6 linked regions of the Homo sapiens genome follow. The protein of the gene in region 2 purifies or fractionates together with the protein of the main gene of each other region. This does not show direct contact. Each region holds a gene or a part of one and is shown on either strand. Other genes may lie near its edges. The genes, in order: SH3BGRL, COTL1, PINX1, JPT1, TIAL1 and PGM2L1.

Region 1 (4,876 bases), on a different chromosome or scaffold from region 2:
GTTCTTTGAAGTGTGACCTTAGATTGTTTGTGCTCTTTCAGACTTTTTGATGTAGGCGTTTAGGGCCATAAACTTTCCTCTTAGCACCACCTTTGCTGTATCCCAGAGGTTTTGATAGGTTGTGTCATTACTGTCATTCAGTTTAAAGAATTTTTTAATTTCCATCTTGATTTTGTTTTTAACCCAATGCTCATTCAGGAGCAGGTTATTTACTTTCCATGTATTTCCATGGTTTTGAAGGTTCCTTTTGGAGTTGATTTCCAGTTTTATTCCACTGTGGTCTCAGAAAGTGCTTGATATAATATCAATTTTCTTAAATTTATTGAGGCTCATTTTATGGCCTATCATATGGTCTATGTTGGAGAAAGTTCCATGTGCTGTTGAATAGAATGTGTATTCTGCAGTTGGATAAAATGTTCTGTATATATCTGTTAAGTTCATTTGCTCCAAGGTAGAGTTTAAATCCATTGTTTCTTTGTTGACTTTCTGTGTTGATGACCTGTCTAGTGCTGTCAGTGGGATATTGAATTCCCCCACTATTATTGTGTTGCTGTCTATCTCATTTCTTGGGTCTATTAGTAATTGTTTTATAAATTTGAAAGCTCCAGTGTTAGGTGCATATATGTTTAAGATTGTGATATTTTCCTGTTGGATAAGGTCTTTCACCATTATATAATGTCCCTCTTTGTCTCTTTTACCACTGTTGCTTTAAAGTTTGTTTTGTCTGTTATAAGAATAGTTGCCCCACTCTCATTTGGTGTCCATATGCATGAAATACCTTTTTCCACCCCTTTACTTTATGTGCCTCCTTATGTGTTAGGTGAGTCTCCTGAAGGCAGCAGATAGTTGGTTGGCGAGTTCTTATCCATTCTGCAGTTCTGTATCTTTCAAGTGAAGCATTTAAGCCATTTACATTCAATGATAGCATGGAAATGTGAGGTACCATTGCATTCATTGTGCTCTTTGTTGCCTGTGTACTCTAGATTTTTTCATTGTTGTTTTTTGCTTTTGCTTTCAAGCTTGTATTTTTGTTTTATAGGTCCTGTGTGATTTATGCCTTAAAGAGGTTCTGTTTTGATGTGTTTCCAGGATTCCTTTCAAGATTTAGAGCTCCTGTAGTGGTGGCTTGATAATGGCGAATTCTCTCAGCATTTGTTTGTCTGAAAAGAGCTGAATCTTTCCTTCATATATGATGCTTAATTTCACTGGATACAAAATTGTTGGCTGATAATCATTTTGTTTAAGGAGGCTGAAGATAGGGCCTTAATCCCTTCTAGCTTGTAGGGTTTTTGCTGAGAAATCTGCAGTTAATCTGATAGGTTTTCCTTTATAGGTTACCTAGTGCTTCTGTCTCACAGCTCTTATTTCCTTTGTCTTAACTTTGGATAACCTGATGACAGTGTGCCTAAGGCGAAGATCTTTTTGGAATGGATTTCCCAGGTGTTCTTTGTGCTTCTTGTATTTGGATGTATATATATCTAGCTAGGCCAGGGAAGTTTTCCTTGATTATTCCCCCAAATATGTTTTCCAAGATTTTAGAATTCTCTTCTTCCTCAGGAACTCCAATTATTCTTAGGTTTGGTCGTTTAACATAATCTCAGACTTCTTGGAGGCTTTGTTCGTATTTTCTTATTCTTTTTTCTTTGTCTTTGTTGGATTGGGTTAATTCAAAGACCTTGTCTTTGAGCTCTTAATTTCTTTCTTCTACTTGTTCAATTCTATTGCTGAGACTTTCCAAAGCATTTCGTGTTTCTAAAAGTGCATCCAAAGTTTCCTGAATTTTTTATTGTTTTTTTCCTTACACTGTCTATTTCATTGAATATTTCTCCCTTTACTTCTCGTATCATTTTTTGGATTTCCTTGCATTGGGCTTTGCCTTTCTCTGTTCCCTCCCTGATTAGCTTAATAACTAACCCCCTGAATTCTTTTTCAGGTAAATCAGGGATTTCTTCTTGATTTGGATCATTGCTGGTGAGCTAGTGTGATTTTTTTGCAGATGTTGAAGGGAACTGTTTTGTCATATTACCACTGTTGGTTTTCTGGTTCCTTCTCACTTGGGTAGGCTCTGTCAGAGGGAAGGTCTAAGGCTGAAGGCTGTTGTTCAGATTATTTTGTCCCATGGGGTGCTCCCTTGATGTAGTACTCTCCCCCTTTTCCTATGGATGTGGCTTCTGTGAGCCAAACTGCAGTGATTGTTGTCTCTCTTCTGGGTCTAGCTACCCAGCGAGTCTACCCAGATCCTGGTTGGTACTGGCGGTTGTCTGCACAGAGTCCTGCGATGTGAACCATCTATGGGTCTCTCAGCCATGCATACCAGTGCCTGGTCTGGTGGAGGAGGTGGAGGGTGCAATGGACTCCGTGAGGGTCCTAAGCTTTGGTGGTTTAATGCTCTATTTTTATGCTGGTTGGCCAGGAGGTGGCGCTTTCCAGAAACCATCAGCTGTAGTATTGCGGAGAGGGACCCGCAGTAGGCAGGGCCCTAGAACTTCCAAGATTATATGCTCTTTGTCTTCCACTACCAGGGTGGAAAGGGAAGGACCATCAGGTGGGGGAGGGGCTGGGCATGTCTGAGCTCAGACTCTCCTCGGGTGGGTCTTGCTGTGGCTGCTGTGAGGGGTGGGGGTGAGATTCCCAGGTCACTGGAGTTCTATACCTAGGATGGCTTCCTCTGCTGAGTCAGGCAGATTGTCAGGGAAGTCCTGTAAAATCAGCAGTCACAGGCCTCACTCAGCTCCCAGGTAAACCGAAGGGTTGGTCTCACTTCCACCAAGCCCCCGTCCAACAGCCCTGAGTCTGTTTCCAGGTGGAGGGCAAGAGGGGCTTAAAAATTCACCCAAGGCTATCCACCTCCCAGCTGCGAAAGAAAAGGGTTTTGGTTCTTCCCTTGCCTGTGAAGTCTGCAAGCGAGATTTGCACCCTCCCCCGAGTTCTGGCCAGGAGGCTTCTTCCCCTTTCGAATTGTTACAAAATTTGGCTAGAGAATTCCTTCTTTCTGTGGAGTTTTAACCCCTGCTCCTCTGGCCACCCTCCCGATGGATCCCTATGGTGCCAGGCAGAAATGAGCTGCCTGGGGACCCAGCGAGATACCAGGGCCTTCCTGTTGCTTCCTTTACCCCTGTATTTCGCTGGGCTCTCTAACTTGACTCAGCTCCAGGTAAAGTTGGAAACTTCTCCCGCAAACAGACCTTCAGTTTCTCCAGTGAGGGTATCTGTTCGGGAGAGGAGGGTCTCCCTTTTCCACTTCCTCAGTTGGGGCACTCACAGTATTTGGGGTGTCTCCTGAGTCCTACATGAGCAGTCCACTTCCTTGAGAGGGTCTGTGGGTCCTCTCAGGATTGCTGGTTTGTTCTTGCAGTCTATTTGGGGCTAAAATGCACAATGCAAGCCTCCAGATGCTGCTCTGTCTGGATTGCAGATGCTGCAATCTAGTACTCTATCTTATTTAAAGAAAAGTGCCTTACCTCACTTTTCTTATGGCTCAAATTGTACAAAGCCTAAAATATAAGATTTTATCCATGGGAAAAGAAAGTTCGGCAAGAAAACCATTTTACAATGACATGAACACAGTACTAGTAAATTTTTGTCTAGTGAAAACAGACAATAACACAGCCTTTTAAAATAGGAGAGGGAATTGGAGTTCAAAGAATCTGTCTAACATACAATTAGTTGCTAAGAGCAAAACATAAAATGACAGAGCAAGAGACACGCATTTTGATTAAGGCAGTTTGTGTGAAGAACTACTATAAAAGGCAAAGGTATGTTTAAAGTTGATAGTTTGGGGACATCTCACTAGACAGGCAACTTTATTGTTGCTTTCTTTATTTGGTCTCTCCTGAAAATGCTGCTACTTAAAAAATTAATTTGTGTTGGCAGGAAAAAAGCCTCAAATTTGGCGAGCAATTTAGTGACCAGTTTTGCAATGCAGATGCTCTTAATTAACTTGAATGGATGACTCTATCATTTGCTCTCACACAAAGACAATAAGTGCTGCCAAGGAGATTACCATGAACTAAGATGCTTACTGTCGATGTAGAACCATGCAGGACAGCTGGAATAATGAAGGCTTTAAAATTGCTAAGCACTTATCTGTGCATAGGTCAATGAGAAATTTGCTCCCATGGGCAGCTTGATGGGGAAGTCACTCTACCTACCTGCTAAACACATAGTTTATGCATTTGGTTATGCACATCTTTCTGCCCTAATAGGAATTAAGTGGATGCAGAGAAGGCACTTTTTGCTATAAAGGATTGTCTCTGACTTAATTTGAATACTTAACAAAAATGAAAATCTTACTGATTAAAAAAGTTCAGCAGCAATAAAATGACCTATAAAACAGGAAAAAAAGGGTATCATACCTTTGAACCAGGTGGGGCTGTCAAGCCTAAGAAGGCATACACTGCATTATTTTCTCTGGCTTCAAAGAAGGCATCATAGTCCTTGATGAAAAGAAGATAAGATGAATTAGCAATATGCAACCAATAAAAGAAAAAAAGGAAATTTATTCAGCCGAAAGCAGTGGCTCACGCCTGTAATCCCAACACTTTGGGAGGCCGAGGTGGGCGGATCACCTAAGGTTGGGAGTTTGAGACCAGCCTGACCAACATGGAGAAACCCTGTCTCTACTAAAAATACAAAAATTAGCCAGGGGTGGGGGCACATGCCTGTAATCCCCGCTACTTGGAAGGTTGCGGCAGGAGAATCGCTTGAGCCTGGGAGGCGGAGGTTGCAGTGAGCCAAGATCACCCCACTGCACTCCAGCCTGGGCAACAGGAGGGAAACTCCATCTCAAGAAAAAAAGGAGATTTATTCAGAATGACCTGACTGGTCGACAGAATCATCTACCTCCTTGGGGACAGAGAGACTAACTTCCATAATA
Region 2 (4,183 bases):
TTTTAGCTTCCTCGCCAGACACGCGCCACTCCCCACTCCCATCCCTGGGGGGCAGGAGGTGGGTCTGAGCAGAAAACCACAAGCCTGTGGGAGGAGGGAAGTGTTCTCCCACTACACCAGAGTGGGCTGAGGCCTGGGAGCACCTGCCAGGAGCCTCCTGATGGGATGGATGCTCTTTTCCTCATCCCCTTCTACTTGCTGGAGAGAACAGTAGCTTCAGAGGCAGAACATGGTTTGATGGGGGAAGGGAGGGATGGGTGACCAGCGGGAGGAAAGAAGCTGAATTTAGGGAGGGAAGCTGGTCTGTAAAGCATAGCCTCAGAGCCGGCAAAGCAGAAATACTGCTGACTCTCCTGGCTGTTCACGGACCGGAGGGGAGAAAGTTAAGAGTTTGCACTTACTCCACTTGCAAAAGCATTCAACTACAGAGGCGGAGGGACGGAGGCCTGGGTTCAAATCCTGCCCTGCCAACTCTCCACATCGTTGCAGTGCTTTATGCTGCGATTTTAGGCCAACTGTTTACAAAAGCAATGAATGAATGTCTACAGGCAGCGCTCAAGGAGTAATTTTAGTTTTGTGTGTGTGTGTGTGTGTGTGTGCGCGCACGCGGGTTCTCAGTATCACCCATCCTCTAGTAGTCACACCACAAATACCCTTTGAATTGAACTAAATGCAAAATATAATTTGATTATGGAAGCAGTTAAGGAAAGAAACACCCACATGATCCCTGGCACAATTTTGTACTTTTTATTTATTTCGCAAACAATCATGTAGCTTGTACAGGCACTGTTCTGAGCATTTTATACATACTGACTCACTTATCCTCGCAACAGCACTGTGAGAGTGCAGGTGAGGAAACCAAGACCCCCAGAGATTAAGGAACTCGTTCCAAACCACACAGCCAGGAAGCAGCCGTTCAGGGATTCGAACCCACACCGTCGGCCGGGCGCAGTGGCTCACGCCTGTAATCCCAGCACTTTGAGAGGCCAAGGTGGGCAGATCACCTAAGGTCAGAAGTTAGAGACCAGCCTGGCCAAAATGGTGAAAACCCCATCTCTACTAAAATTACAAAAAATTAGCCAGGCGTGGTCGTGGGCGCCTGTAATCCCAGCTACTCAGGAGGCTGAGGCAGGAGAATCTCTTGAACCCGGGAGACGGAGGTTGCAGTTAGCTGAGATTGTACCACTGCACTCCAGCCTGGGCAAAAGAGGAAGATTCTGTCTCAAAAATAAATAAATAAATAAATAAATAAATAAGTAACCCACACCGTCTGGCTCAGGGTCCACGCCGTAACCTCCGGGCTGTGCTGCCGTTGTCCGAAAGCTTGCTTCCAACTAAAGACCAGAGATGGGAGGGAGTCGCATTCTCCAATCTCTTTAAAAGGTCCCATTACCAACATCACAGAGCCTCTGCCACTACCGAAGGGTTTATGGCGATGCCTGCCACGTGGTCTTTCTTTTCATGGTTCACAAGCCACAGGGAAGTGCCTAAGGCACACAAATCTTAAGTATACAGTCTGATGATTTTTCACGCGGGTACACACCTGCATAACCCCCTCCCAGATCAACAAATGTCTACAGAGACATTTTCAGCTCCCAGCAGTCCGGGTGGTGTGCCCCTCCCCATCAGTGGCTATCTAGCCCCAAAAGCTAATCTCGATTCTGACATTCACACCATAGATTAGTTTCGCCTTGTCTAGGATTTCTAAATGGAATCATATGGTGTGTACTCTTTTGCATCTGATTCTACTCGTCAAATTAAAAATCACATAAAATCAGCACACGGGCAGACAATGATAGCGGGAGAAAGGAGGGCGCGGCTGAGTTTCTTTCCCTTCCAAGCAGCCCCCTAGCCTGTTCGTATTTGGGCTCAGTGACTGATCAAAGGGGACAGTGGGAAGAGCTGGATGGACACTGGAGTTTGGAAACACAGGAGTTGACCTTAGAAAACCAGTGGACCGCAGGGGGCAAAAGAGCTGCCCCGCCTGGAGAAGGCATTGTAGGATGGCGGAGGCAGGTGGGTCACTTCTGTTGCTTCGGATGTCCAGAGGGGAGAAGGTTTTATGAGGCCTTAAAACGCTCACACCGGGTTCCTCCCACGCCATGCGCCAGGGGCACCCCATGTGGCCACCGGTTCCTCCCGGGTTCGCTCTGGCCGGGGCTCCCCGGGTGCAGACAACCTCCCAACGACCGCGCATCCGCCCGGCAGGCGCGCCTCCCTACCTGTGCACTGCTGGATGAAGTGCTGGTACTCCGCTCCCTGCTCGCCGGGGACGATGGTGGAGCCGTCATATTTAAAAGTCACCCTTTGGGTTGGGAGAAGAAAAAAACACACACACACATCAGCGCTGGTGGCCGCGCGACGCGGCGCTTGCAGAGGACAATCTAACAGACGCGCTGGCCACGGAGAAGCCCGCGGGGGCCTGGCACGCCGTCCCGGAATAAGGCGAGGAAGACAGCGCGGGAGGCCCGAATCCGTCCCGCCTGGAGGCCGGCTCGGTGCACGAGGCCCCGCGCGAGCCCGGGGAGCGGGGCGTGGAGACGAATGAAAAGTTCCTACCAGATGACGGCCGAGCCGTCGTCGCGCACCAGGTTGTACGCCGCCCGGCAAGCCTCTTTGTCGATCTTGGTGGCCATCGCCGCGGAGCCGCAGCGGGACACTGTCCGGGGCGGCCGAGCGCGCCCCTGGCCGGCGGCGGGGATGGGAGCGCGGCGGGTACGCGCCGAGGGCGCACGGGCTGGCGGCGGTGGCGACGGCTACGCGGCGCCTGCAAGCTGCGAGCGCGGCGGCGGCTTCCACTGCGGACGGAGAGCGCGCGGGGACCCCAGGCCGTGGCCCGCCCCGCCCCCCCGCGCCCATTGGCCGCCCAGGCGGCGGCCCGCCTCTTCATTGGCCGTCGGGCTGCGGGGGCGGAGCGTCTTGATTCTCTGGCGGCCAATCCCAGACCGGAAGGCTTGCGCAACTCCGCGGTGGGGGCTGGAGTAGGGGCTTTGCCTCCTCCCTCTCACTCTCCCTCCTCCCTCCCGCTCTCTTCTCCCCCAACATCCCTCTTCTCTCTCCTTCTCCTTCTCACTTCCCCTCCTCCCCTCCCGACCCCTCCCTGGAAACTCCCACTACCCCAACCCCCTTTCCCACCCCGCCTTCCTCCTCTCCCTCCTCCTTCCTCTTCTTCCCCCACTGCTTGCTTCCCCCACTTCCCTGACCTCTTCCCCCTCCCTTCCCTCCCCCTCTTTCTCCCTTCCCCCTTTATTCTTCTTCCTCTCTCCTCCTCCCTCTTCTTGCCTATCCCAGCCCAAAACTTCTCCATCCTCCCTATTTCCTTCTCCCCAAGCTCTCCTCTTTCCTCCTCCTTGACCCCCTCCCCTGCTGCCCCCGGCTTCGCCTCCCTCTTCTCCACTTACCCTCCTGGCATCTCCTCCCTCCCTGTCCCCTACTCCCTCCTCCTATTCCCCCTCTCCCCCTTCCTCATTCTCCCCACCCCCCTGCCCCTGAGGCTGCAGGGCTGCAGAGCTCCACAGGGGACCTCCACGTGGATGATGTAATGCGTCAAACCCAAGGAGACAGGCTGGCCACTGTCCCTACCCCAGCGTTTGGTTCCATGGATTCTAGGTGGGGAGGAACTGGAAAGAATGAAGCATTTTAAATAGGAGGGGGTAGAAAGTGGACTGCTTCCAAAACGCTGGTGGGCTCGCGTTTACTCTGGATTCTGGTCATTTGCATTCCTATCTTAACCTCTCCCTTTGGGCTCCTCTGAAAGCACGAGCTGACTCATTCTGTCTTCCTCATTCCTTCACTGACTCATTCATTCATTCCCTCATCCAGCCATTCCACAGAGACCAGTTACAGCGTCCAGGTAGGTAAAAAGGCAGGATCCTGAAGACTGGGCTCTTGAATTGCATCCAGTACTGCCACTTTCCAACTGGGGGCCATTGGAAAGCCTCAAAACCTCTTTTAAATGACTCCTCAAATGGGAAAAATAGTATAACTGACATCACTGCTTTGTTTTAAGTGTAATTGAAATGATACTTGGAACAAATATACTAGACATTCGATAAAATGTCATCATTGTTGGTTATTAAGTGATAAAAACAAATCCTAAATAGAAACCCAAAAGGTCAGGGACAATGTCCAATTAATGTTAGAATTCTCAACAAGCAAAAAAACAAAAACGAGAAATTGAATG
Region 3 (3,500 bases), on a different chromosome or scaffold from region 2:
TTCCGAGCCTGAGGGCCTTTCAGGGAGGCAGGAAGCCTGCTCCTCTTTCTCTTTCCTCTTTTTCCACAGAGGCTGGATGACTCTTGTCAGTGATCCTGATGTTGATTACTTGAGAAGCTGTTGCCATAGAGAACCATCCTTTTAAAACATGTTTATGTCGGCTTTTCCTAATAAGTGGCAATCGGAATAGCTGGTTAGGCATATGGGAAAAAATAAAAATAAAAAGACATAAAATTAACAGCTCTGTTACCATTGGCCTTCATATGAGGAATTTGGCATTCTGTGTATTTCTCTACTAAAGTCCAGCCAAGCTATTCTGTCCCTTCTAGTTCGTATTATCTTCTCCAATGTCCGGTGTGTCTGAGTTTGTAACTTCCAAGCGGAGTTCTGATGCCTGATATTAGAAAGGTATCTCTGCATACTTACTGGGTTGCTGAGAGTGCTCTTTGATGTCACATCACTTTTTAAACAAATTTTTTCTTTACTGGCTTTTGCTACTCAAAAGCAGGCAGCAGTTAGCAGCCTCTCTGCTGCTTGCTGACACAGTTCAGAAAGGTAGGCATTCTGTCGTTGGCAGGAGACAGAGCTTGAGGACTTTGTCAAAGCCCAGCGTCCTCCAGTTCCATACGTGTATATATGTACATGTGTGTATATAAAGGTATATTGTGTGTGTGCACTGGAAAAGCACCTGCCACTTCCAAAAGTCAGCCGTATTGTATTCACAGTCACAGAGCCGATTTTATAATACATTTATTCAGTAAATATTTACTTAGCACCTATTGTATGTACTTGTATAATGAGAAAGAAAACAAATTTTTACAAGATTTTTACTGAGGAAATTCAAAACTTTAAGGACACTGGTATTTGAAATTCATGTAATTTTTACATGTCATAAAATAGTTTTTTGTTTCCTCCTAACCATTTAGAAATGGTAAAAAAAAAAAAAAATCATTAAAAACTAGGCCCACGGCCATAGTTCACCAGTCTCTGTTCTAGAGAGAACCCTCTGGAACCCCTGCAGAGTGGGCTTCTAATACATGCCACAGGTTCTTACACCTGTTTCACATGTGCACGCACACACAATTTCTGTGTTTTCCAATTGAGTTGCTGCATAATTCTCATTCTGTTATTGTATCTTTGCTTTTTAATACCACTTCAAATCACAACTCTCTTCAGTCAATGGGGTTTTATATTTGTTTTTGACTCTTGTGATACTTGCTAATGCTAAAACTGATTGTGTCTCCCAGGCAAATTCCCCGAGGCTGCTCATTGCCGAGACTTGGTGCGTTTAGCCTAATTCCAGATGTGAGCGATGAATGTCTTGAAAAATGTACAAGATTTCACACTTGAAAAGCTTTTTGTGAGTGTAAAAATAGCTGTTCATCAATAAAACACTGGGTGTTTTCAGTTACATGGAAACCACGAAGGAAAAGCATGAAACCACAGAGGTTCCATAGAGAGAAGAGCAGGGCCGCCCGCCATAGTGGCTCAGGGCAGGCTTTCCAACGAACGGCCGTGAATCACTGCCTAGCTCAGCCTTCAGTGGCAAACCCATTTCAATGACTCCCTAGAATCAGCTTGCCCAGGTTGTTTTCAGCTAAGATATAATGTAGGCTGTGCCTTCACAGCTTGCTACCAGAGGCTGCTGGTGGAACTTCCATCCCACTGCTGTTCTCCAAATGAGCTGCTTACCTTTGTATGTGGTATGCACGAGAACTCTCTTCTCTTTACCAAGAACAGTTCTCTTCTTTAGCAAGAACAGTTCAGTCTCTACTGGCATTGCTTGTGTTCAACTAATCCCACAAAAAGAACGTGGCAGTTCCCATACCACACAGTACCTTGCTTTTTTCCAATTGACTTGTCCCCTCCAAGGCAACTGTGGTAACATGTGGAATGACAGAGCAGAAGGAGAAATGGATGGATCACTGGACTGAGTTTCTATTTATTGCTAAGGGCCAGGAAGGAACTGGCTGACAGCAGACGACACTCAGATGTACTCTGCAGTAGTTAGAGAAGCAGTTTGCATCACGAGGCAAGGGAAGGTGCTATCTGATGAGAAGGGGGTGGTTTCATGTGGATGGGAGGAATCTGCACTCAAAATGCTGATTCTCTTCTTACCCTCCCACACCCCTTCTGGACATTAGACCTGCCTGATGTGCAGACAAGTTCGTACTGACAAACACAAAGCATTTGGGGCCAGTGGGTGGTGGTGGGAGCTCTTCACAGCCTTGGTCCAGCTGGGTTTGGTGTCTTTGTGCCTTTGTTGAGCACTTACTGTACCTTGTTCCTCATTAGGGAGGTTGTGGATTGTATGAATACAAATGCAACATAAATGGCCCCTGTCCTCAAGAAACTTGTTTCCTTGGGAAGATGCTAGCAAAGCAAATTAAACAAATACAGAAAATAGAAGCAACAAGTTGCTATTATGGGGAATAAACAAGAAAGGATGTTCACTTGGGATTGGACTTGTGGAAGGAAGCAGTCACACACTTGATCTTCAAGAAAGTGATGCACGGGACTGTGTACAGGGGATGTGGAAGAACATCGTAGGCCAGCATAGGGAGTGACTGGGTCAGTTCATCCTGCCCCTTCTGTTGGAGGAGTTTAAAGTACACACACAGCTGACGGTGGGGTCTCCACAATCCCTTTGTTTTGAGGAGTCACACACAGTCACTTCATACCTGAAGGGATACATGAAGACATAATTTGTGTTTGTCAGAACTGCCCCACTGAAAAGTTTGGAAAAGGTACAGAATGTTCTGTCAAACCACTCACTTGCCAAGCTTTCTTAACTTTTCACAGACTAACCCAGCACAGGCTGATGACAGACAGGCTGTGGTGGCAGTGAGCATTTGTTCATCACAGGCAATAGCCATCAGGGCTCACAACCCCAGTTGCTAAATACATTACCCTTGATCTCTGGGAGTCTACTTTGTTAACAAAGTTCATTGAAGGATTACTGTTGCAGCATGACCTCCGTGTCTTAATGTGGAAATAAGAAAGCTTCCATCATCCTGTCACTTAAGATCAGTAGTGATGTATGAGCAAGGCTGGCGAGCTGAAAGACTTGCCTTTGAAGCCCATTTCCTGGACTGGCATGTTGATCATAAGTAGGGGGATTCTGTAGTAAGGTGCATCTGCTTCTGGCACTTCACTAAGGTCTCTGTGCAAACTGCTTCATTTCCTTGCCCCAAAAGATTCTTTTGAGAATAATGGAGAATCCTCTCTATTTGGGCATTGTACTAATAATCCATCTCAGTATACATGTTTGAATGACACAAGAGCAAAGTCCTCCATGAGCCCAGAGGATCTTGCGCAGATACTCACTCATGTAGCTGCAGAGTCTCCAGATGGAGGATCCTAAAAGAAGCAGAACAGACTTTAATTCTGTAGACATCCGAGAAGAGTTGATACATGTAGCTTCAGGCATCTTTCAGGGACCGGAGAGGACTGTGGTGTATTGTAATTGATACCCGCAGGGACTCTCTGCAGGGTCAGCT
Region 4 (5,358 bases), on a different chromosome or scaffold from region 2:
GAATCCTGCTCTGTTGCCCAGGCTGGACTGCAATGGTGCGATCTCGGCTCACTGCAAGCTCCGCCTCCCAGGTTTACACCTTTCTCCTGCCTTAGCCTCTCGAGAAGCTGGGACTACAGGCGCCCGCCGGAACGCCCGGCTAACTCTTTTATTTTTAGTAGAGACGGGGTTTCACCGTGTTAGCCAGGATGGTCTCCATCTCCTGACCTCATGATCTGCCCGCCTCGGCCTCCCAAAGTGCTGGGATTACAGGCGTGAGCCACCGCGCCCGGCCAAGAAACATTTTTCTAAGAATATTTAGCACTTCTATCTGGGCGTGGTGATGTGAACCTGTAATCCCAGCTACTCCGGAGGCTGAGGTAGGAGAATCGCTTGAACCCTGTAGGAGGCGGAGCCTACAGTAAGCTAAGATCACACCACTGCACTCTAGCCTGGGCAAAAGAGTGAGACTCCGTCTCAAAATAATAATGATAATAATAATAATAATAATAAAATTAAGGTCAGGAGCGGTGGCTCATGCCTGTAATCCTAGCACTTTGAGAAGCCAAGGCAGGCAGATCACAAGGTCAAGAGATCAAGACCATCCTGGCCAACATGGTGAAACTGTCTGTACTACAAATGTACAAAAATTAGCTGGGCGTGGTGGCACATGCCTGTAGTCCCGACTATTCAGGAGGCTGAGGCAGAGGCAGAAGAATCGCTTGAACCCGGGAGGCAGAGGTTGCAGTGAGCCAGAGATCATGCCACTGCACTCCAGCCTGGCAACACAGTGAGACTGTCTCAAAAAAATAAATTAATTAAAAAAAATAAGGCAGGGCGCAGTGGCTCACGCCTGTAATCCCAGCACTTTGGGAGGCCGAGGCGGGCGGATCACCTGAGGTCAGGAGTTCGAGACCAGCTGGACCAACATAGAGAAAACCCGTCTCTACTAAAAATATAAAATTAGCCAGGCGTTTTGGCACATGCCTGTAATCTCGGCTAGTCGGGAGGCTGAGGCAGGAGAATCGCTTGAACCTGGAAAGCAGAGGTTGCGGTGAGCAGAGATTGTGCCACTGCACTCCAGCTCGGGCAAAAAGAGCAAAACTGCGTCTCAAAAAAAAAAAAAAAATCAAGAAAAAGACACTAGTACCCGAACACCAGCTTAAGAGCAAGTCAAAACTCTAACCAGTCCCACTTTTTAAAGGTCTCTGTTCCTCCTGCAATAGCAGGTAGTAACCAACTCGGATGACGTCAGTGTTGTAGAGACCATTTGTAATAGTGAGATATCCCCAAACAAAGGATGTAGATCATAAGGCAGAAAGTATCTCAATGTTTTAGGATCCTACTATTCTTTCAGAATCATACACGACAACTAAATCAGGATTATATATTTAAGACTGAACAAAAATGTGTCCATGTACTGTAAATAGCAATTTTTAAAAAATTGCTCCTTTTCTTTCTTCTCTCTTAAAATCCTGAAGTTTCTGTATATCTTTGCAGATCATTCCCTACCAGACTAAATTTATAACGAGTTTATGGGGCCAGGAGAACATTACTGGACAAAATTAAGTTTATGAGAATTAGGTGAGAATATAGAAAAAGGGAAGGTAGAGAGACAATAAAATGACAATGCTACTACAGTCCCTAGAGCATAATATTGGAGGGAAATTGATGACGAAAGGTGAATTAAACATTCATTTCACAGGATCAGAACTCATTTGTCTCACATTTCAAATGTACACATGAAAAACTAAGTGTGAGGATTCATTTGACCTAATTACTGAAATTCTTTACAAAACACTAATATCAACTCAACCCCAAAGAATAAAACCCCAGATTACACATTATCATTCCGACGACTGAAGTCTAACCGGCAGAAAGTTGGCCTCGTAACACAAAATGAAAAACCAAGGCTCAATCTCTTCCTGTTCTCTGAAGAAATCATCTCATTGGAAAGAAAACAGAAAGGGAGCGACCAGTTTCCTAGGTCTGTGCTACTTAAGTACCCCATCCTCCCAGTAATCACCAATTTATTTTTTTAATCTTACCTAGTCTTTTTGACCTTGTAAACCTGAAAGTATTGAGTTGTAAAGGAATGTCATTTCCCATGCTTTCCTCCTAAGGCTCAATTGCTGAGTGAGGCGTGCTTTTTGTTCCCAAGTTCTCTAACCCCTGTGAGATATGGCTATTTCACGTGTCTTCTTAGCCCCACAAAATGGCTCCCTTTGTGCCACTTGGCCAGGACCCCGAGGGTAGCCACACATGAATGCAGGTCATAATCGATGTAAAATACATGCTCAAAAAAGTGATTTAAGCTTCTTCCAAGCCTTGAAGAGGATCCCAGACATAACTGTAACCCACCTTAAAGAACAGTGTGCAATTAGCTGAGACAATGTGGACACCTTCCACAGAATCCAAACCCTTCCACCAAGTAAGTTAAGCAAGGACTTGGAAAAGGGTTCCTGTCCAAACACTGTACCCAGTGCCCCAAGCCCAAAAAGCAGTGGGAAGAAGGGCAAGAAAAATCCCCCGCTTCCCAGGTAGCGCTACCACGTTAGAGACAATGGATGTCTCCGGCCCCGCCCAAGAACAAGAAACCTCCTCCTGCAAGGGAACCAGGGCCAGGGATGAACTCACTGGGCAAACGTCAAAGGAGGAAGCGAAGGTAGGATGCAAAGGCCACGGTCCGAAGGTTTAAGCGCAGAAAACCCACTCGGGTTGGCTCGTTCCCCGCGCCCGCCCCCGCCCCCCGCCTTAGAAATGAGCGCAGGGATGGGGAGAAGGGGTCTTTCCTTTGTTAGGAAGGGGAGACACTTGGAAGAGGGGAGGCACTTCGAAGAGGGGAAGAACGATTGGGTCCTCAATGGGGGGTGAAGGGTCGCGATGACCAGCCCCGCTCGACCACACATGCACCTGTCAGGTAGGTCCGAATAAGGAGTGGGGGCACGGCGAGGGTAAGGAGCCCGCCGGACCTGATCGATCCGGTCTCCGGATCCAATGGCTGCGCGCGAGAGCGAGACCAACCGCATGCCACGGGGGAGAGACAGGAGCGCGTGGCCCATCAATGGGACAATAGGACCTGACCATGCATGGGGCCCTAAAGGATCCCCGGGCACCTGGGGGGCCAAGCCCACCACCCTGGGGATGCACCAGCCGGGATGCACACAGGAGAAAGCGAAGCCCTCCCCGAAGGTTCCGATTAACGAAAACCGGCCGTGCTCCGAGGGGCGACCAGCCCCGGCCTCCTCAGCCCCTGACTCCGTGGAAGGAATGAATGGAGAGCAGCAGGGACCCGGGTGGGGCCGGCGCGCAGGGCTCGCCAGGCGGCACAAAGGCGGCGCCGACGGCAGAACCCCGCCACCCGCCCCGGCGCGAGCACAGCGCACGGGGCTCGTTACCCGCAACGACCGGCGCGAGGCCCCGCCGGCAGCGGCCCTCCCAGCCCCTCAGCCCCGCGCGGCTCGGGCGCGACCCGGTCGCCTCACCGGGAGCTATTCCTGCTGTTGGGGTCGACTCCCTTGAAGGTGGTGGTTGTGGTCATGGCGCCGAGGAGCGAGGTAGGCTGGCGCCGGAGCAGAACGCTCAAAGGGTCGGACCCGAGGGGCGCTGGGAAACTCCACACCCAACAGCCGACCACCGCTGCAGGAGCCGCCGCTGCCGCCTGTCCGGCCGATCGACGCCTTTATAGGGTTTTCAACCCCCGCCCCCTAACCCGCCGGCATTGGCCGATTCAAATGAATTCTTTCATTCCTATTGGCTCTCTGGAGTGCCAAGCACCATGCGGCATTACGATGGGCTGTGGCGGCCACGGCTCAGCCTAAGCCCGCCCCCTTCCTGGACTGGGAAGGCCTTGGGACTCTCTCCCCTCCCCCACCCCAAAATCTCGGCGATGATTGGACGGAAGGCGAATCTACCTCGCGCTGGGTGGAAGTCGTGCTGGCTGTCACTGTAAAACGTTACCTGACAGAGGGGGAAGCTCTTTCTTGGGGAGTTACAACCTCGGCAAGCAGAAGGGAGATTTGTCACTGTTACTGTTCTCTCATTTGCTTTACTGATGGTGGGATAGTAAGGGCATCCTCCTTAAAGGATGAAAAGTACTGCAACAAGTTGACATTTATCTGTTGAATACCTACTGTGTGTCCCATTTAGAAACCTAATAGTCTCAAAGCAGCCGCACAATGAGTCAGCAACAGAGAGCGCACCAAGATGATCCCTTTTAAAAGGACTGGAAATTCCTTACATTTTAATGTTACTGTTTAGTTGTAATGGGTGGTGCATGTACTGGACCAAAATTACAGTCGCTCCTATTTGGGGGCCTATTCTAAGGCTGGTTAATGCCTGGCACCAGGAATGGACTCATTCCCTGCTACCAAGACTATGGAAGCAGCTCAGGCCTCTGCAGCTGTTTATAACCCTTAAGTCATGACTCTTCCACCTGTCTGGGTAAATCTATCCATGCGACAAATGCAGACACACTTGGAGGATTCAGGAATGATGGTTTACAAGATCATAATAGGAAAGCCTTGGGCAAAAGAGGGCAGGCCCTTCTCATGTCTTGCATATTTCCTCAAGGCAGATGTCTTTGCTTGTCTCAATATTTCCATAATAATTGAACCACATTCCTCTTTGCAAAGCCACCTTTCAGGTAGTTGGAAGTTTGTATTCTGGGCAGTCTAGGTTAACCACCCTCCCCCCCCGGGCTTTCATGAAAAGCCAGTGAGAAGTTCTGTTCTAGAAAGCACGGATGATGCATTTATGTGCTTACCACAACAGCACGAAGCGCACCACTTGTTTGTGTTAGAATCTTCCCTTCTTTTTTTCCTTTCTTTTTTTTTTTTGTTTTTGAAGTGGAGTTTCGCTCTTGTCACCCAGGCTAGAGTGCAATGGCGCTCAATGCAACCTCCACCTCCCAGGTTCAAGCGATTCTCCTGCCTCAGCCTCCGTAATAGCTGGAACTACAGGCGTGCGCCACCACCCCTGACTAATTTTTGTATTTTTAGTAGAGACGGCGTTTCACCATATTGGCCAGGCTGGTCTCAAACTCCTGACCTCAGGTGATCCATGCTCCTTGGCCTCCCAAAGTGCTGGGATTACAGGTGTAAGCCACCGCATCTAGCCAAAATCTTAGCTTTTTTTTTTTTTTTTTGAGACAGAGTCTTGCTCTGTCGCCCAGGCTGGAGTGCAGTGGTGGCGCGATCTCTGCTCACTTGCAGCCTCCACCTCCCGGGTTCAAGCGATTCTCCTGCCTCAGCCTCCCGAGTAGCTAGGACTACAGGTGCGTGCCATCATGCCCGGCTAATTTTTTGTAGTTTATTAGTAGAGATGGAGTTTCACCATGTTAGCCAGCATGGTCTCAATCTCCTGACCTCGTGATCCACC
Region 5 (4,876 bases), on a different chromosome or scaffold from region 2:
TAATCTTCCTTATAGTATAATCATTCTTTTTCTAGCTATTTATTTTCGAGTTTATGAAAGAGGAATGAAATTATACTCTATTATTAAAACATACATAACATTACATAAAAGTTGTGTTTGTAGTTAACATTCAAGTATATTCAAGTTTCAGATTCAATACATTAAGTAACTAATGACTAAATTTAGTATTAAAAAATATAAATTGAGATGGAAGAACGTACCAGTTTGTTATAAAAAGATACAAAACCATAGCCTTTGGATTTTCCAGTTGCCATGTCTTTAACTACCCGGGCATCCCTGTGAAAAGAAGCACAGCTAAATGAGGGAAGTAAGAGCCACCCTCAAAATAAAAACTAAAAGGAACCACACACACTGTATTGTGAGCATTTTTAAAATAAAATTCCAGTTAGCCCTAATTAACTACAACCATTCCTGAACTCTCCCTAATGCTTCTTTACCTGTTAGAAAAAAGCAGTAGGACAAAAACATGTAATAAACATGCAACCTAATCAAATAGCCTGTGCTTTCTAAACTAAATGCTCAAATTTGAAGATTAATAGGAACAACAGTTTCCCTTTCTAATATTCTATTTACTAGTGTCCTCTAAGGTTTACTGATTCTATAAATTACTGTAACAATACTAACTACTTTACCATGCAATCTCTAAATAGTTAAATGTCTTCTGCCTAGTGATACAAAATATATGAAATATTAAAAAATTGAAAAAGAGGAAAAAATAGGAATTAAAAAGGCATACATGGCCTGTTAACAGATTTCTTTATTTTTCTTGGTCAATTCTCTACCATCATTTTGGAGTTTGGGCAGCTGTAAATTTTGAAAAATTGACATTTTCAGAAATTTAAGAAAGGAGAATAAAAAACTAACAACAATGCTAAGCACACCAGTACGAAAACAACAAATTTACACAGAAATTTTAGTGAGTAAGTTAAATGATTGGAAATATAGAACTCCACTGAATATAGAATGTTAAAATGTAAATACTAAAATATGTATATATAAATAATGTATAATAAGAATAAATAGAAATGAGAAAAAAAATCTACAACTGAGTTCCAGTGTGCACAGTTCCTTGCAGTTAGCCTTCAAGATCCTGTCCATTCTTATGAGCAATTCTGCAAAATAACCAGAATGCTATTACTTTTAATTGTGACTTGGACTTAAGAAAAACTGCAGGTCTCAGGTATAAATAAAGATTGAAAAACAGCAACCTGTATTATTTTTATATTGATTTTTAAAATAGTACTACTTACCACATTTAGATTAAAAAGCAAAGCAAATATCAAAACAGAAAGTTAAGAATTACATCTTTTAAAGAAATTAAATCTATAGAACAACAAATTGTATAGAGAAAATATTGTTGTTCTTAGTTGAAACACTTTCCTGTAAAGTAGTACTAAGATGTTTAATTTAAATCTACAGGAAATATACAAAATAAACTGATTTTAATCAGAAAGATAAATTATGATAAACATTTTCTACAATTCATAACCATTTTTAGTTTTCCAATATATTTTTTACCAAGTAACAACAGTAAAATCTGAGCATAAATTTGTTAAAAATCAAACCACATTTGCCTCTTAACTAGTAGAATCAAATATCACTAACAAAAACATCTAATTAATCCCACATTTATGACTCATACATTGAAACATTTTAATAGTATAATAGTACTTTTCACTTATAGCTAAAATATCAAAAACACATTTATCATAATAAAACATGAACATTTCCAATTTAATCACAATATATCCAAGGATTTACCTACTCTCCCCCATTTATAAATTCCTCCTATAAAAGTTATTGAACTCTTACACAGTATAGATCACATTTACTTTTGATTAACTCATTATCCTAAACCATCAAATTTTGAAAACATATGACAAAAAGCTAGACTTTATAAGTTTTACCATTCAAACATCTGCTTCAAAGATAACAAACAGAATCACTTAAATTTTTTTTAACATATTATACACAGGATTAGATGAAAACGAGACCCCAAGACACTGAAATGACATTAACATTTTCAACAACATCCACTACTCAAAACAAACCAAAATAAATAAATGAAAAATAAGAAACAAAACAAAACCATACTAACTAGAGAAAGAAAATCTTAATTCAATTACAAGTTAATCATATACAATTCTGCCTATCATGACTGAGTGTAGTACTGATTATGATACTTACGATATTTTACCAAAGGGGGCAAATGCTGATTTGATATCTTCTGTTGTAATTTCTGGACTCAAATCCCCAACAAACACATGGAAGTGATCTGAAATCAGAGCATTTGGTAATCAAATACTTAAGAAGTCAGCCACTAAAACCTTTTTAAGGCAACTCTAGAGGAGGAAAAAAAAACCTATTTAAGCTGGTAATGCCTCCTGGATAATTTCAGAACTCTTCCACAGTAAAATGCAGCAGGAGTACTTACTGGAAGTATCTTTTTTCTGGCTACTTGGTGTGGTTGCCCAGTTTACTTTGACCTCCTAAAAATAAAGATTATATTTAATAAAATTATTAGGCATGTCATGAGTTACAACACTTACCACTTATTAAATCATTTATCAAGCAGGGTTATTTTTGTAAAAGCACTAAGCTGAATAAAGCAAAACCATCACTCAGCAGCCGAATATCTGCTCAAAAATTTGCCTAGAAAGAATACAAACTAGTTTGACATGCAAATATATGTACTCATAAGGTGCCATCATCCTATTATCTTACCTTTCCCAAAATTTTTCTCCCATTCATAGCAGCTAATGCAGCAGCTGCATCTCTGTGTTCATAAAATTCCACAAAGCAATATGGGTCATTGCTTGTATGCTGCAAAACAGAAAATCCAACAGAAGAGTTGACCCTTCTGCTATCGGGTTGCTGAGAAGAAAATCCAGGAAAAAACATTACTGATAGCTGGGAATATACAAGGTGAGACTGCATAAGCTTATGAAAGCCTAACACTTTTTAAATAAGATTTAAAGCTAAACCTGACTTTGCACCTCAGAATACTGCTGAACTCAAACGGAACTATAAAAGCAGTTGTAGAATCATGAGCATCAGTATTAAATGAAAATAAAGAATTCTGGTGAAGTGTGTTAAATATAAAATAGAAGATTATATTAAACCAAACAAAACCTCAAACTCAGATCTGATGAGGACCACTCCTTACCACTACTTTCCTTCTCCAATATTATTTTTAAATTACGTTCTACTTATGCATCATAATCCTCTATAAGTGGTATCCCAGGATACAGAAATACAGCAAGAACCAACTTCATAAACTACTGATCAAAATTAGGATCAATACTACAAATGATGGAATTCTATGCTGCTACAAAGACTGAATTTTATTGATTTCTTTTCTGGATATGGAAAGAATGAAAATAAAAACAAGAAAACTTAAGCTTTATAACCAGCTACTGAAATGAATTCCCTACCTTCCAAAATAGTCTAATGTACTGAAGATTCTATATACTTTGAATTTGGTCTTCCAAAGATCAGAGAAATAACAGTGGTGATCAAGAAAAGAGGTTCTGAAAATGTATCTGAATAAAATATTCCAAGACAAAGCTATAAGTTTACATCATAAGAACACCATATAAAAAATCTATATTAAATATATTCTGCAACCCTGTGCTTGACAGTAGTTACCTAAAACACATTTATAAAGATGTGAAGAAAGTAGTACTACCTAAGCTATAGCAACATTCTCACCTGACAACCAAACTAGAAATGAATTTCTATGAAACTGCAACCTGTACTGAATAGCTGCACAACTGTACAAATACATATTTTTATGTAAGGCTAAAAACATTCATCATTATTCAATGTAAAATGCCCTATAAGAATAATATTTAAAATGTGGAATTCTAGTTGGACTTACAAGGGATAAATATACCAGATAAAATAAAGATCTTTTCAACCACAACAGTTTTTCATTCCAGGAAAGTTTTAGAAGAAAAATCCAAAATAAGACGTCTAAACAATAGTGGCAAAGGAACCAGAAGGCATTTCCTTGAGGGAAAAAAAGTGGGATCGTTAATACTGACAACAAAACTATGGGCTCTCATACAAAATCCTACTGTTGTAGCCACGTGAATGCTGTTCTTAAGAGGTAAAGAAAGGAAATGGGGGAAGACTTCAAATGAAAACACACATTTAAATTCTTGTAAAAGAGTTATTACATTTACCATAAATATTCATTGAAGAAAGGACATCAAAATAAATAAGAGGCTAAAATTGTGCTAGTTGAGTTTTCCTTTCACTCCTATCTCTTTTGCCCCAATGGTCTCTAAGGAAAACACTGATAATCACAGCAAAACATACAGGGGTCCAACAGCAGATCTATGATAATCCCATACACTTTAGGAAACTAGTCTACTCGTGAATACCAATTTCAAATCTATCTAATAGTAGGCCAGCTCCCAATCAATGTATGCACGTGCATGTATATATACACATATATTCACTGACATCACATATTTTATATATTCACATCACACTGCATATCATCTAATTTAAGACACCACTTATTTCTAAGTCACATCCCAACTGTCAGATATTAAAATTCTAAAAAAATTTGACTTAGAATCAATAATATATATTTGTATTATATAAGGAAAGCTAGAATCTATGATAACAACATCTAAAGTAAAAAAAAAATCATAAAACTATGGGGGAAAAAGGATTTTTCACATACTGAAATGAAATTTATGAAAGAAAAATAAATAGCTGCTAGATACTCTGCTAGAGTTTATACCCTCTGGAAGCTTCTTATTTACACCACCAAGTGACATCCTAAAAATCAATTATGGGCTGGGTGCAGTGGCTCACACCTGTAATCCCAGCACTTTGGAAG
Region 6 (5,576 bases), on a different chromosome or scaffold from region 2:
GGTGGCATTTGGTTCCTTTTTTAATTAAATAGGTATTCATCAGGTGTTAAAATCAGTTTCTCTGTTAAAAGACTACATATGCCATCAATATATAATGTAAGAAATGCCATGAGTCTGATCTTATTTTACATTTCTGCACTCTAAATTTCAGTGCCCTGAGACAGTCTAGCTTACCTATAGTATCAATCTACAGTAGATACAATTTCTCCATTAAATGTATTCTCTCCTATTAAGAGAGGATCAATGAAGAAATTTATTATATTTATTAAATAATTAACAAATTACTTAATCTATTCCTCTGTTAAGGATACTTATTACTTGCCCCTATTATTTATGCTTTTCCTTCCCTTCTATTTTCTTTAAAGATATGATCCATATCTATTTCATCTTTCTATCTCTCACAGGTTTCAGCTAATGCCTTATATTCAGAGGCACTTTAAATACAAATTAAGAATTTATCTTCCACTTTCAATGAAGTTTTATCTTCATTATTTTTATTTTGTTTTATTTATTTTTGAGATGGAGTCTCACTCTGTCATCCAGGCTGGAGTGCAGTGGAACGATCTCAGCTCACTGCAACCTCCGCCTCCCAAGTTCAAGTGATTCTCTGGCCTCAGCCTTTGAGTAGCTGGGACTACAGGCACGTGACACCTCGCCTGGCTTTTTTTTTTTTTTTTTTTTTTTTTTTTTGTATTTTTAGTAGGGACGGGGTTTCACTATGTTGGCCAGGCTGGTCTCGAACTCCTGACCTCAGGTGATCTGCCCACCTTGGCCTCCCAGGGTGCTAGCATTACAAGCGTGAGCCACCGTGCCTGACCTCTCTTCATTCTTTTTATGTATCCTATCTTCTAATGAAGTCTTCCTTGAGCATCTCAGTCCACCGTTTACTCCTACTTTTGAACTGCAAGAACTGACTGCCTACAAACCATTTAATTGCCACCAAAACTACCCTAGCATTATTATTTTATGTGCATTTTACAGGTTTCTTTAATATTTCAGTATATCCCAACAATGTATAGGCATAGAATGGACAATCAATAAATATAAATTCATTCAAACAATCTTTTAAAAATAATTCAGGGGCCGGGTGTGGTGGTTCATGCCTATAATCCCAACACTTTGGGAGGCTGAGGTGGGAGAATCCCTTGAGGCCCAGAGTTCAAGACAAGCCTGGGCAACATAGTGAGACCCCATTTCTAAAAAAAAAAAAATTTTTTTTAATTAGCCGGGCGTGGTGGCATGTGCCTGTAGTCCCAGCTACTCGGCAGGCTAAGGCAGAAAGATCACTTGAGCCCAGGAGTTCAAGGCTGCAGTGAGTGCAGTGAGCGGAGATCGCGCCACTGCACTCCAGCCTGGACAACACGGTGAGACCCTGTTTAAAAAAAAAAAAAAAAATCAATCAGGAGACTCATTAGGAAAAGTACAGTTAAAACTGGCACCTAAAGAGAACAAAAAGTCTTGCTACTCCAAGTGTGGTCCACAGACCAGCAGCATTAGTATCACCTGAAAATTCATTCTTTTTTTTTCTTTTCTTTTCTTTTTTTGAGACGGAGTCTCGCTCTGTCGCCCAGGCTGGAGTGCAGTGGCGCGATCTCCGCTCACTGCAAGCTCCGCCTCCCGGGTTCAAGCCATTCTCCTGCCTCAGCCTCCCGAATAGCTGGGGCTACAGGCGCCCGCCACCGCGCCCGGCTAATTTTTTGTATTTTTAGTAGAGACGGGGTTTCACCATGTTAGCCAGGATGGTCTCGATCTCCTGACCTCGTGATCCACCCGCCTCGGCCTCCCAAAGTGCTGGAATTACAGGCCTGAGCCACGGCGCCCGGCCGGAAATTCATTCTTAGGCAGAATCCAAGGCCCCACCCCAGGCCTCCTGAATCAGAATTTGTATTTCAAGATCCCCAGGTGATCTATAAGCACATTAAGGTTTGAGAAGCATTAGTTTAGACTGTAGAGGAAGAATTATTCGTCCAATATACATATGACCAATTAACACCAAATACCTCATTGTAGTTGCTTATTTGTTGGTCTTCCTCATCTGCTAACTGAGGCTTGTTGAGGGCAGGAACCCTTTCTATTTTCCTCACAAGTATTTCCTGGGTCTAACAAGACCTAAAACACGCACTCAGCATTCAATATTTTTTTGCTGAATGAATGAATGAATAAAGTAAAAACAAAACTTTCAGAAAGTGAAGCCTTAAGGAAATTCATTTGTACAACATAATGTCACATACTACCATACAAATTCCTTAATTCAGTGTCATTAATTCCATTTTAAATGTGCTGCCTTCTCTACTTCAACAAAGGTATTTTACGCACTTGACAAAGCAAAAGCTTGGATTATCTTCCTCTGTTGGAGCTACCAGGGACCTCTTTTACAAGTAAGATAGCTGCATTTTAATTCTGATTGTCACAAATTCATCCCAAATGCCCGCACGAGGTTTAATTACCACCACAACTTGGAGGTGGGGGCGGAGGGTGGGTGGGGAGGTGTTGGTAGAGAAGTAATGGTTAAGGCAAAAACAATCCTGTATTAAGAGTACCACATGAAACCTGGAAAACACGATTCCTTGAACAGATTAATTCCAGAAAATAGCTGCCAGCAGGAGAAAGAAGAGGTAAGCGCCTTGCCTTTCCCAACAGCAAAAGGTGATACTAGACAATACCAGGGAGTGATAAAAGGCCAGCAACTACCTAGCGACAGAAGGAGGAAACACACCAGACCAGAACTAAAGCGGATAGCGGTTAGAAACGCCCAGTAAGGGTGCCAGAAACCACTTTCAGGTATGTGGAGAAGGAAGTCAAGGGAGAAAAAGGGAAAGGAAATCGTTGTTTAGGGTATAACTTACAATGATGATGATTTTTTTTTTTTTTTTTTTGAAGAAAGAGGGAAGACAGCACTTGAAAGGAAAGAGGGTAAAGAAGAGGAAGGGAGGTTACAATTGAGAGCACTGCAGAAGGAAGCGATGCAGATGTTGCCGCCCGGCTCTGGCAGTCCGAAGGAGCAACCCCACGCATAGGTGGGTGGCAACGCCCTGCTCCGCTGCCCCCCGCTCGGTGTCCCGAGCCATCTCCTCTGCAGCCCGCGGGGCGCTGGGTGGGCACAGGAAAGAGCAGACTGTGTGGGGGAGGCGACGGCGTTTGCCGGGCTGACCAGGTACCCACCTTATCCCAGCGGAGCCACTGCCCGATGGCCGTGTCCAGCTGAGGGTCCCCGGTGTGGTAGGGGGCGTGGAGCAGGTTGGAGTTCAGATCCCCCTCTGTGTTTTCAGCCATGGCGACCAGACAGGCGTACGGGCCGGGGGCCGGCGAAGACACTGAGTTGGGGTGGGGGGTGGCTTGGGGTTCGCTCACCAGGGTCCAGGCGTCCCCACCTCACTGAAGGGCATCGGAGACCAACCGCAGGGTGTTCGTAACAGCTCCTGCCGCGGCGTCAGGGAACCGGGAGAGAGGGGGTTTATGGCCGCCTGCTCCCCAGCGGACCAGGTCCGGGTCTCTGGGCGAAGTGACTGAGGCGGTCGCGCCGCGAGAGAACAACAGTCCCAGATGTCTGGGTCCTGGCTCCGCCGCCGCCGCCGCCGCCCGCCCCGCCTACGGCCCCGCCCCGCGCCTTAGGCCCCGCCCCTTCCCGCCCTTGCTGATTTAAGTCCCCGAAGTTCTAGACTGGAGCCCGGGAGCGCGCTCCCCACGCCTCCGAAGTAGTGGGGGTTTACAGCCCGTCCGGGTGGTGAGGCAATAGTGCACGGTTCTTTTTATTTTTTAATTTGCCAAGGGTCTCCTTTCCTCGATCTGCTCTCACGGCTACCACTAGCAAGCTGCCTTTGCGCTTGCCCTGCAGGTCCCCAGCGCGCGCGCAGGCCCCCAGTTTCTCTTGGGGGCACGCGCCGGTTGGGGGAGGAGGGGCAGTGCGAGCTGTCCGCGCACTGCCTCACGGGAGTTGTAGTTCTTTCCTTTGTCTGAGCTCAGCGGAGACCGCCGCCGAGACTACGACTCCCAGCAGCTCCGCGTTCCCCCTTTCCTCAAAAGAAAAAGATCTACCTCGAGGTAGTTCCCTACAGACACGCCCTATCCCTATTAGTTATGCTGCGCTGTGTGGCCCTGGCATTAAATTAAACAAGGAATGACATAGTAAGGGGACAAAGTGGTATCCGTTTAGTGCTGTGCAGTTTACGAATCGCGTTCTATCGCCTCAATCCCTCAGTAAGGTACAGGGGCGTAGTCCTTTTCCGTTTCACACACAAAGAAGAAACTGACTCCCTGAGACACCTCTCCTAAGAGGCCGAGTTCGTGAGCGGTCAAACTAGGGTTCCAATCTCATTTCAGATCCCCTCAGCTGGCAGTTATTTTATTAGGTCGGTGCAAAAGTAATTGCTGTTTTTGCCATTAAAAATAATGGCATTAAAAGTAATGGCAAAAACGGCAATGACTTTTGTACCAATCTAATATCTCTGCTGCTATAGTAAACTAGGAGGTAGGGAGAACAAGATTACTGGAAAATAGATAAGGAAGTTGTTGAGGGAAGATGGTCGGCATTTAACCTAAATATAAGAATGTATAAGCATCACAAGATACCAAGAGCAATGGTAATGGGAATACGGAGGAAAAGGAAATTGGTTCACCCAAATTGAAATAGTCTTCCGTTACTTCTTAGCCGTCTCTCCTATGGAAAGCTCACCTAAGTTGAGGTCTGGGAAATGCTGAGAAGTGCTGACCTGTCAGCCACCTAGCTACTCCTCCGTTTCTTGGTTTGGCCTTCTTAGAATGGCTATGATTTTGGGCAAGTACATTACAACTCTTTCCCTAGTCAGCTTTTTTGTAAGGAAGGTATGATAATATTTACATCATGGCTGTACAGTAACTTAATAAATGGCATTAGGCTGCTTTGAGGTTCACAGATAAAAGACATATTAAGTTCAAAGTATTACTTTATTTCCTTTAAAGTGCCATTTACCATAATAAAATTCAAACTACCAAGGTACAAAAGGATTGTGGTACCAGTTTCTGAAAAACGTGCCATAGTTGGGAGTTGCAGTTTTTGCTAACGATTGTTTCTTTTGTGGAGTCAGCAGGACTCTTGTTCTTTTAATCACACAAGGCCTGGGCAACAGTCACGTGTCCTGGAGAGAAATTCATCTTCCACTACCATCACCATTATTATCCATGATACATATTAAACATTTACTCTCTGCTAAGCATTATGGTAGGAGCTGAGGCTACAAGAATCTATATAATTGTTCACTTCGAGAAGTAACATCTGAGGAGACAGGATATATGTAAGAAAAGAAAGCCCATGATAAATAGCAAGTGCTGCCAACAACTGTTAATGAATTTACATCTGAGGTGGTCAATGAAAAAAGCATCAAGCAGGAGGGACCTGCACTGGGCTTTCAGAAACAAAATAAACAAGTTGAGAATAAGATAGAGGATATTTCAAACCCATAGATCAGTGGTTCTCATATCTCCCTAGGAGTTTGTTTAAATTAATATTCCTGGACACTGCCTCCAGAGATTCTGAATCAATACATTGGCATAGGGCCTAGGTACCTGCATATTTGAAATATCTATTGACTGTCACAATT

The links.
Region 1: the proteins of COTL1 (region 2) and SH3BGRL fractionate together in Homo sapiens (co-fractionation; one large-scale study listed by BioGRID). This does not show direct contact.
Region 3: the proteins of COTL1 (region 2) and PINX1 purify together in Homo sapiens (co-immunoprecipitation; one large-scale study listed by IntAct). This does not show direct contact.
Region 4: the proteins of COTL1 (region 2) and JPT1 fractionate together in Homo sapiens (co-fractionation; one large-scale study listed by BioGRID). This does not show direct contact.
Region 5: the proteins of COTL1 (region 2) and TIAL1 fractionate together in Homo sapiens (co-fractionation; one large-scale study listed by BioGRID). This does not show direct contact.
Region 6: the proteins of COTL1 (region 2) and PGM2L1 fractionate together in Homo sapiens (co-fractionation; one large-scale study listed by BioGRID). This does not show direct contact.

The regions. Positions count from the first base shown.
Region 1 is NC_000023.11:81,277,891-81,282,766, reverse strand, and holds part of SH3BGRL (adapter SH3BGRL), read right to left. Parts: intron 4,437-4,876; coding exon 4,356-4,436; intron 1-4,355. UniProt on the Homo sapiens protein: Appears to function as an adapter protein that bridges proteins together or proteins with mRNAs. May function as a ubiquitin ligase-substrate adapter.
Region 2 is NC_000016.10:84,615,279-84,619,461, forward strand, and holds the start of COTL1 (coactosin-like protein), read right to left. Parts: upstream 2,801-4,183; 5' UTR 2,637-2,800; coding exon 2,560-2,636; intron 2,306-2,559; coding exon 2,223-2,305; intron 1-2,222. UniProt on the Homo sapiens protein: Binds to F-actin in a calcium-independent manner. Has no direct effect on actin depolymerization. Acts as a chaperone for ALOX5 (5LO), influencing both its stability and activity in leukotrienes synthesis.
Region 3 is NC_000008.11:10,770,376-10,773,875, reverse strand, and holds part of PINX1 (PIN2/TERF1-interacting telomerase inhibitor 1), read left to right. Parts: intron 1-965; exon of another isoform or gene 966-3,360; intron 3,361-3,500. UniProt on the Homo sapiens protein: Microtubule-binding protein essential for faithful chromosome segregation. Mediates TRF1 and TERT accumulation in nucleolus and enhances TRF1 binding to telomeres. Inhibits telomerase activity. May inhibit cell proliferation and act as tumor suppressor.
Region 4 is NC_000017.11:75,150,878-75,156,235, forward strand, and holds the start of JPT1 (jupiter microtubule associated homolog 1), read right to left. Parts: upstream 3,636-5,358; 5' UTR 3,521-3,635; coding exon 3,465-3,520; intron 3,367-3,464; exon of another isoform or gene 2,028-3,366; intron 1-2,027. UniProt on the Homo sapiens protein: Modulates negatively AKT-mediated GSK3B signaling.
Region 5 is NC_000010.11:119,579,714-119,584,589, forward strand, and holds part of TIAL1 (nucleolysin TIAR), read right to left. Parts: intron 2,896-4,876; coding exon of another isoform or gene 2,845-2,895; coding exon 2,746-2,844; intron 2,511-2,745; coding exon 2,456-2,510; intron 2,297-2,455; coding exon 2,209-2,296; intron 1,134-2,208; exon of another isoform or gene 760-1,133; coding exon of another isoform or gene 758-759; intron 298-757; coding exon 222-297; intron 1-221. UniProt on the Homo sapiens protein: RNA-binding protein involved in alternative pre-RNA splicing and in cytoplasmic stress granules formation. Shows a preference for uridine-rich RNAs.
Region 6 is NC_000011.10:74,394,889-74,400,464, forward strand, and holds the start of PGM2L1 (glucose 1,6-bisphosphate synthase), read right to left. Parts: upstream 3,546-5,576; 5' UTR 3,274-3,545; coding exon 3,163-3,273; intron 1-3,162. UniProt on the Homo sapiens protein: Glucose 1,6-bisphosphate synthase using 1,3-bisphosphoglycerate as a phosphate donor and a series of 1-phosphate sugars, including glucose 1-phosphate, mannose 1-phosphate, ribose 1-phosphate and deoxyribose 1-phosphate, as acceptors.